Regions from separate parts of the Homo sapiens genome. Here all the other regions are linked to region 1. The links come from fine-mapping of genetic effects on plasma protein levels. A gene starts in region 1. Each other region holds a variant in brackets. All regions are shown on one strand. Distances are from middle to middle.

What was found. PIP is the chance, under the fine-mapping model, that this variant and not a neighbour inherited with it causes the effect. Protein levels are from antibody-based Olink assays in UK Biobank. Linkage for the fine-mapping came from a reference panel and not from the study's own genotypes, which makes the PIPs less certain.
Region 2: its variant is fine-mapped to the plasma level of the FAM3D protein (UK Biobank, PIP above 0.99).
Region 3: its variant is fine-mapped to the plasma level of the FAM3D protein (UK Biobank, PIP above 0.99). The variant lies in the coding sequence of FAM3D. If it changes the protein, the assay may bind it differently, which can mimic a change of level.

The regions. Positions count from the first base shown.
Region 1 is chr3:58,665,699-58,668,454 of GRCh38, forward strand. FAM3D (FAM3 metabolism regulating signaling molecule D) reads right to left here and starts at 1,076. Exons shown (of 10, transcript NM_138805.3): 1 at 878-1,076. It overlaps LOC105377109 (a long non-coding RNA gene), which reads left to right. Exons shown (of 3, transcript XR_940879.3): 2 at 1,855-2,210.
Region 2 is chr3:58,640,732-58,643,487 of GRCh38, forward strand. All of the region lies in intron 6 of FAM3D (FAM3 metabolism regulating signaling molecule D), which reads right to left. Among named protein-coding and RNA genes, the nearest start is that of FAM3D, 25 kb to the right of the region's middle. RefSeq lists enhancers at 1-200, 201-701 and a silencer at 3-162. The variant C/A (reference allele first, on the strand shown) is at 1,479.
Region 3 is chr3:58,652,024-58,654,779 of GRCh38, forward strand. FAM3D (FAM3 metabolism regulating signaling molecule D) reads right to left here. Exons shown (of 10, transcript NM_138805.3): 3 at 1,651-1,758. Among named protein-coding and RNA genes, the nearest start is that of FAM3D, 13 kb to the right of the region's middle. The variant C/T (reference allele first, on the strand shown) is at 1,668.

The DNA.
Region 1 (2,756 bases):
GCCAGATTGCCTGGGGAAGTTATTAAATCTCTCACTGCCTTGGCTCTCCGTCTGCAGAGTGGGAATAATCATGGTGCTTTCCTTGTAGAGGTGATAGGAAGATTAAATGTGTTATTATATGGAGAGCACTTAGCACATCATACATGTTATTTTATGTACTTCAGTGATGATTATCATAGTTGCGTAGACAATGAGAACTTCAGCGATTGATGGGGGATATTCAGACTCTCTCTCCCATTTTACAGATGAGGAAACTGAGTCTTAGTGAAAGGGACTAGCTCAATATTACATAGCTAGAAAATCTCTCAAGTCCATGCACCTTTGTCATAACTTTTCAGATCATTACCTTATGAGAAAAATGAGATTTGGGGCCAAAGAACAACATTCCTTTCTTTTTTATTCATTTTTCAAATATTTGTGTGGCTCACTGTTGATCATTGGAATGTGTTTTTTTGAATCAATAGATGAGTGAATGAAAGAATAAATGTTGAGGGGCCCCTGTGGTTAAGGAAAAAACCCTGCAGTGTGGGTTATCAAATCCCTAGCTGGCATGCCCTACAGCTCCTTCTTGTGCCCATGGCAGACATAGCTAATCAATCATAGCATGCTTTTGCCTGAGCCCGAACCCAGCCCCAGAATCCTTTTTATCACAGTCTAATTTCATTGATCAGGCCTGGTGCCTCAGATGAAATCTATTTGCCTTCCTGAGTCTGATCTCAGGAATCTCTTCGATTATGTGGTTTCCTTCTTTCTTTCCTTTCATCATTCTGTCTCAGGCTCTTTCACTCCTATTTCCCACCCTCCCCACCTCCATTTTCCCCTCTGTCAATCATGTGTACCTGGAACCATAGCCCTTTCCATTCTTGGGGGGACGTACCCGAGGGCTCGAGGCTCCCACTTCCCTGCTTCGATGGAGAAGGCGAGGTGGTCCAGCAGGTGCCGTAGGTCCCTGACCCAGCTGACCACCACCCTGGGCCAGCTTCTGACAGTCCCACCTCCCAGTTGCTGGAGGGGTAGTGGCCTCACAGACGGCCCTCCTCTAGATGCAGTGGGCCCAGAGGGTGAGACGGAGTGTTGCGGGCCGCCAGTGGGCCAGCTGCTCCTGCCCTGCGCAGGCTCTGCCCCTCCTTTGAGGAAGTTTGCCATCAACTCTCCCTGCCCTGTTAAACAATCTCACAAGGAAGGAGGAAGTTTATTCTAAGTGCTCACGGGGCAGGAAATGAGTCTAAAGTCTTGCCTGGCTGAGGAGTGGCTTAGGGCCTGGCTGGGGCCTGGGGAGAAGGGCCATGCCTGTTCCCTTCCTGTAGAGCTATCCTGACCTTGGCAAGGGAGGTTTGGGTGGGAATTCAAGCAACTTAATCAGGAATGAGATACCACAATCTGCCTTCGAAAACAGCCAAAAAACCTTACAAAAAACCCGACCCTGTGCTAACAACCTCCCCAGGCGCTGGGAGGTGTGGGGCTGGTAGAGCGAGTAACTGCAGCTGATGATCACCTGCTTTGAGGTTCTGGACTAGAGTGTGGGGGGGTGCTGGAGGGGCTGACTGGAAAGAGGGGAACCCAGGCAAGAAACTCAGGACAGGAAAGATGGAGGAGGTCAAAGGCAACTGCAAGATATTGAGCTTGGATGATGGAAAAGGGAGGCTTCTTGGTCAAGAGTGAGGAAGATGGGGGAGAGGAAGTGGTTTGGGAAAAGATTCTGGATTTGGGTGGGGCATATTGAATTAGAGGTTAAAGGTGGAGGGGGTGGGGTGTGGAGAAAGGGAAAGACGGAGAAAGAAAAGAAGGGCTGCTCAGTGGCAGACTTTTAGTGAAATGGTGAATGCAGCCTTTGTCTCCCTTCTCTCTCCTTAGGACCCAAGGTGCACTGAGAGGGGCTCAGCTTCCCCCTCCCCTGATCCAGCACTCCCAGTCTTTGTCACAAATCATGGTCTCTTTCCCAAGCGCTTTCCTCTTAGGAGGAGTTCTTGCCTCGGTCCTTGGCACACAGGCTCCTGGCAACTTCCTCCCTTGTTTGCTGACTCTGAATGCTTCCGTAGGCTGTGTGGCCCACTTGGAAGGAATATTCAGGGGCATGAGGTCCAGCAGCTGGTCAGGAAATGAAGATGCATGCCCAGGGAGCTGGTGCAAGGGAAGAGCAGGGAGCGGACCCTGTGTGATGAGGTGCCGGGAGTGGCCCCAGTTCTGCTGTTCCAGCTGCCCATCCCCAGGTAGGCACGTGGGCCCCCTCAGGATGTATCCCAGGGCGAGGCAGTGCTTTCCTTCACTCTGACTGGCTTTAGGACTGGTCCTGTCCTCTGTCCCATCTCCTTGCCTCTTGCTCTCCCTTATTCTGCTAGGACGGTTCTGCCCATAACTGGTGCCTGGGTCTTGTTCAGACCTGACCTGCAGTGTCACTTCCTCAGGGGGGCCCTCCTGACCCTCACTTCCAATATAAATAAGCACACAAGTGTAGGGGAGTAAAAATGGCTTTCTCTACCCTTCTAGCTGCCTTGGCTGGTCAGGAATTAAACTGACAGCAGGGAGAATAACAGGAGAAAAGGTACAGACATTTATCACATGCATGGGGGCATCCCAGGAAAGAAAAGGAATTCCCCACACCCAGTAAGATTTAGAAGCTTGTATACCCTCTTCACAAGGGAGAGAGGGGTGGGGTGTCAGCACCGTAGTGGAGAGTAAATGATTTCTGGGGAAGAGGAGTGGGCCCTCAGCAGGACAGGTGACGACAGCCTGTGACAAAGGCTATCTGGACGTAG
Region 2 (2,756 bases), 25 kb before region 1:
TGGCCGAAGGCCAAGCCCTCCAGGGAACCGAGTCTTCTGGAGGAACGTTACAGTTCGCGCTCTCCGCCGCTAGATGGAGGCGTTGCAGAGGGGATGGCAGCTCCGAGGCTTACGGAGGAGGGTGGGGACCAGGCCTAGGCTGTCCAGGTGGCGCGAGCAGGCTCGCTTAGCAGCCCCTCCAGGATTCTCGGGAGCCACGTAGCGTGAACGGAATGCTTCACCTGGGGCTCTTGGAAGGAGTCTATGAACCCATGGGGCTGCTTTTGTGATCGCGTGCGCTTGTGAATGATTCTGCAATTGGAGAGTGTTGGGGGTGGGGGTGGCGGCCAGCATAGCTGGAAGATCCTGAGGACTCTCTGCCCCACTAAAGGTTAAAGACTACTGGATCCTTAGCAATCCTTGTGTTGTTCTTGGTCATATAGATGAGGACACTGAGCCCCTTACATGATTTGTTGGGCTTCCCCACATCTGGCATACATAGCACGCATGTATACAGTAGGTGCTGTATGTGTGGTTGAGACATTTCTAGTCTAGGGAGGTAGTTCAGGTGAATGATTAAGACCTGCAGTTGACTCGATCCAGGTTCAAACGTAGGTGGTTTTATAGGCTGTGTGACCTTGGGCAAGTTGCTTAACCTCTTTTTTTTTTTTGGACAGGGTCTCTCTGCAGTCCAGGCTGGAGTGCAGTGGTGTGAGCTTGGCTGACTGCAACCTCGACCTCCCAGGCTCAAGCAATCCTCCCACCTCAGCCTTAGCTGGGACTACAGGTGTGCGCCACCACACCCAGCTAATTTTTTTACTTTTTGTAGAGACGGGGCGGATTCGGGGGGTGGTTCACTGTTACTCAGGCTGTTCTTGAACTCCTGAGCTCAAGAGATCTGCCCACCTCAGCCTCTCAAAGTGCTGGGATTACAGGCATGAGCCACTGCACCCAGCCTGCTTAACCTCTTTGAGCCTTAGTTTCTTACCTGGGAAATGGGGATATTGAGCATAGCTCCATCCTAACACAGTGATGGGGTTAAATGAAAAGGCACAGTAAGTGCCCAATAAATGCTAGTTCTTATTGCCATTGATGGTTATTTTCATCCTTTTGGCTTTGTGAGAAGCAGGGAAAGAGGCCTAGTCTGGGGCCATCTCATTGGAGAATATTCAAAAAGCTTTTCTCAGGTGCGACCCATTTAGGGGAGAAAGTCAGCAGGTTTCAGCCAGGTCAGCTGCAGCCTGTGCCATTTCCTGCCTGCCCTCGCTGTGGGGTGAGGGCAGATGGATGGGAGTGTTGATGTATGCTGAGGCTCCTACAGTCTTCTGGGGTCTGGCATGCACAAAAGAGCGCTCTGAGACCAGCCTGGGCACACCCTCCCTGCAGGAGGGATGCCACTTCATTGAGGCTGGAGTGGAACAGGCCTGGGCCCTCCTCAAAGCTGCAGAGGAACGGCTGCACTCAGCCTCCTGCCACTCCCTGCCCTGGCCCTTCCTGGG[C/A]TCCTAGGAAGTTGGCCAGGGCTGTCCTCTGACTCCCATCTGTCCAGGAACAGCCCCATCACTGCTCCAGGCCTCGACTTCTCCCCTGACCCATTAGGGTTTCTTGGCAGAGCGAGAAAAGGCTTTCTCTGGAGTGAAGTGCAGGGGCTTGGAGCTGGCAAGGCCGGGGCTCCCATCCTACCCTGTTCCTTCCTAAGTGTGCTCATGTGGTCCTGCCACACACAAGCTCGACAAGTTCCTTCCTGAGCATCCCTTACACCTTTTCCCCAACTTGCCCTGACCTTTGTCCCAGAAGTGGCCCTTACAGCCAGTTCTTAGAAAACTCTGTTTTCTAAGAACAGAGGCAGAGAGGAGGTCTGGCTGGGGCTAGACCACCTGGTCCTTACCTGACCCTGTAAGTCCACTCCCTCCTGAAACGTGTCCCTACTTCAGGCTTGGCGGCCCTCTGGCCTCCTGTTTAAGTGTGTGTCCTGCAGGAGATGCAGGGTTATCAAGGCCATGGATTCCCTTGTGGTCTCCCTGCCTCCAGCCCCCCTACTCCAAGCTGGAGGGAGGTTTCTGGAGTGCATGCCTGGCCCCTCACACACTGCTCAAAGCCTTTCCGTGGCTCCCTACTGCTCTCGGCTTCCAGTCACACTTCTTAGCAGGCTTGCTAGCTCCTCATCCTCTGGCCTTGCTGCTGTCCCCAGCCTTGCCTCTCTATGTTGCCCTGCAAACCTCTCTCCCTCCCTTTCCCTTCTCCTCCCTGCACTGTGTTGCCCCTGCCTGGAAAGAGCCTTCCCCAATTTTCTCCTGGCCAGCGCCCACAATCCTTCAGGCCTTAGCTGGCCATCAGCTCCCTCTGGAAGCCTCCCCTGAACCACCCGGGGTCTGTCCCCTGTTCTGCATCCCAGCTCTGCATCCCAGCTCCCATAGCTGTGCTTCCTGCCCCTCCAGAGAGGCTCACCACATTGAGATTGTTTGTGAGCCTCACGGATACCTACGGAGGCTGTGAAGCCAGGGCCTTTCTAGTTCTTGGCTGACCCCCAGTGTCCTGTACAGAGCCTGGCCCACAGTAGCTGCTGCCTGTATTTGTTGAATGAATGAATGAAGGTGTATACTCAGCATGTGATCTTGCACTGTCATTGGTTGTCCCCACATCCTCATTTGTGTTGGCTTAAGCAGAGAGGCTTTGAGGATCGGGTCATGTTTCACTCATGTTCCATAGGAGAAGTGTGTCCTCCTGAGATAGGAGCATGTGGCAGGGGCCTGGCTAGCTCTGCGGTTCTACAGCTCTGC
Region 3 (2,756 bases), 14 kb before region 1:
AGGTCACTGATGTTTGTGATGATGTCAATGTACATGGTTCTTGGTCTTCAAGCGGGATGAATCCAGAGATATAAATCCCTTCCCTTCACTTCTTCCTTTGATCAGAAAGGATATGAATCTGGGAGACCTGGGTTCCCGTTCTTGTTCTAATATCTCCAAGAGGAACTTGGGTGAGTTTTTAAATCTCCTCAAGCTTCTGTTTTCTCAGAACACATGTGAAACCACATCAAGGATTGTGCTTGAGTCCATTCCACAACCACACCATAGATCACTCTGTGGAACATTTGTGCAGGTTAAATGAGACTATGCATGTAAAGCAGCTAGCATCCAGCATCCTTCCACCTGTCCATCCATTCATTCATTCATTCATTCATCTATCCACCCACCCACCCACCATCTACCCATCTAGCCATCCACCCATCCATCTACTCACTCATCCCTTCTCCACCCACTCATCCATCCATCCACCCTTCCCTCCATCTACCCATCTACCCATCCACCCATCCATCTACTCACTCATCCCTTCTCCACCCACTCATCCATCCATCCACCCTTCCCTCCATCTACCCATCTACCCATCCACCCATCCATCTACCCACTCATCTGTTCTCCACCAACCCATCCATCTACTTATCCCTCCATCTATCCATCCAGCCATTCACACATTCACCCACTCACTCATCCATTCTCCACCCACTCATTCATTCGCCCATCTCTCCATTTGCCCATTCATCTGTCCATCTACTCATCCCTCCATCTACCCATCCAACCATCCATTTATCTATCCACCCACCCACTCAGCCATTCTTCACTCATCCATCCATCTGTCCATCCATCTGTCCATCCATCCATCCATCCATCCATCCATCCATCTCTCCATCTACCCATCCATCCATCTACTCATCCTTCCAACTACCCATCCATCCACCCACCCATTTATCCATCCATCCATCCGTTTTTTTTTTTTCACTCATCAAATGTTTACTAGGCATCTGCTCTGTGCCAGGCACTAGAGAGGTGGATGCACACAAAATAAAATCCTTGTCTTCAGGAAGCTCACATTCTAGGGTGTGGAGACTGGCAACAAACAATGAAACATAAAAACCATAATGACAGATAATGATGGTGTTCTGAAAGGAAAAGCCTGACATGAGAGAAGCTAAACTAGGAGGAAGGGGTGCAATCTTAGCAGGGCAACCTTAGCTGAAACTCGAAGGCTGAGAAGGAGCCAGGTGGGAGGGCAGGTGGGGGGGATCTGCATGAAGAGATACAGGAAGAGGGAGCAGCAGGTGCAGGTGAAGACGCTCAATATATGATTTTCTTTCTTCCTTTCCTCCCACCTCCCTTCCTTCTGTTCTTCCTCCCTCTGTCCTTCCTCCTTTCTTTCCTTCCTTCTTCGGGTCACCTTTTCAAAGTGGTCCTCGATGTGGGCACATGTGTTGCCCAGGCCCTTGCAATGCACCTCTGTTCCCCATGGACTCCACCCTTCCTGGTAGTCTGGGGGTGCCCCCTCTCCCTGCAATTGCTGGGGTCCCAAAGGCAGCACAGCTTGTCATGTCTCCTGGGTCACCTAGGGATGGAGGGAAGAATATGTCTTCGGCCCCCAGGCCTGGTCTGCAGTTCCTGCCCCCAGCAGTGAGCCCCACTCACCCAGCCAGCGTGGCAGA[C/T]GGATGGTTTTCATGCTGAAGCTCATGTAGCTTCGAATAAACATCCATGTCGTGACTATGGCAAAGATGAGGGCCAGGAGGCGAAGCACACCTGCTGAGCAAGGGGATGCTGCCAGGAGACCACAGAGCCAAGACCACATTGCAAGACCACGTGTGAGTTCTTCCCAAATCCCACAGACCCCATGCTATAGGCTCAGACCACATCCATGCTGGGGACCAGACCATGGGACCATGTGGTAAGATGTGTGAATTTGTCCAGTGGCCAGTTAGTGAGATTGTGATGCCAGGTCATGTGGCAACATTGCCCCAAGTGGGTCCCCTGGGAGAGAAAGTTAAAAATGTGCCTGCCTGGGCTCCACTTAGCCCTCCAGAGGGAGAGAATCTCTAGCAATGAGGCCAGCATTCTAGACCTTTCTGTAGCCCCTTAAGGGGAGGCCTGAGAACTGCAGTGGGAGGGCAGGACTCTGGGAGGGGAGCCCTGGAAAGGGAGTCAGGAAGGCTGTGGCCAGTGCTCAGGGCAGCCAGCAGTGCTGTGTGACTCTGAGTAGGAGCTCAGCCTCTCTGAGCTGAAGTCCTTCAGGCACAGAGCAGACCTGGTAACACCCTTGCCCCTGAGCTTGTTGGCAGGGATATTGTAGTTGTCAAAAGTAGGCAGCCTCCAGGTGGCTTGGGGTTGGGGCTGCCCCCCACAGTTTCCATCAATTCTCCCTCAAGGCCTCCACAAATAACCGCACACTGGACTTGCTGTGCAGCTTCCAGACAAGCCACAGCTCCCTGGCCCCTGCCTCATGGCCAGATTGCTTTCTGATTCCCCATGTGATTGGGGAACAACCCCACACATGGGGACGAGCCACCTGGAGTTCCCTTTCTTTACAGGGACCGGAAAGCAGGCTCCATTTCACATCCCTGCTACCTTCTGAATCAGACCCACCCATTCTGCTCTGACTCTTGAGGCACAGGCCCAGCTGTGGCACCCCTCCCTCTGACCTCCCTGTTGGCATCTCCCCTGCTCCCCAGCCCCGAATTCAGCTCTAGAGCCTTGAACTAGTCTCTGACTACTCAGGCTGGGGAGAAGGCCCGCCGGGTCCT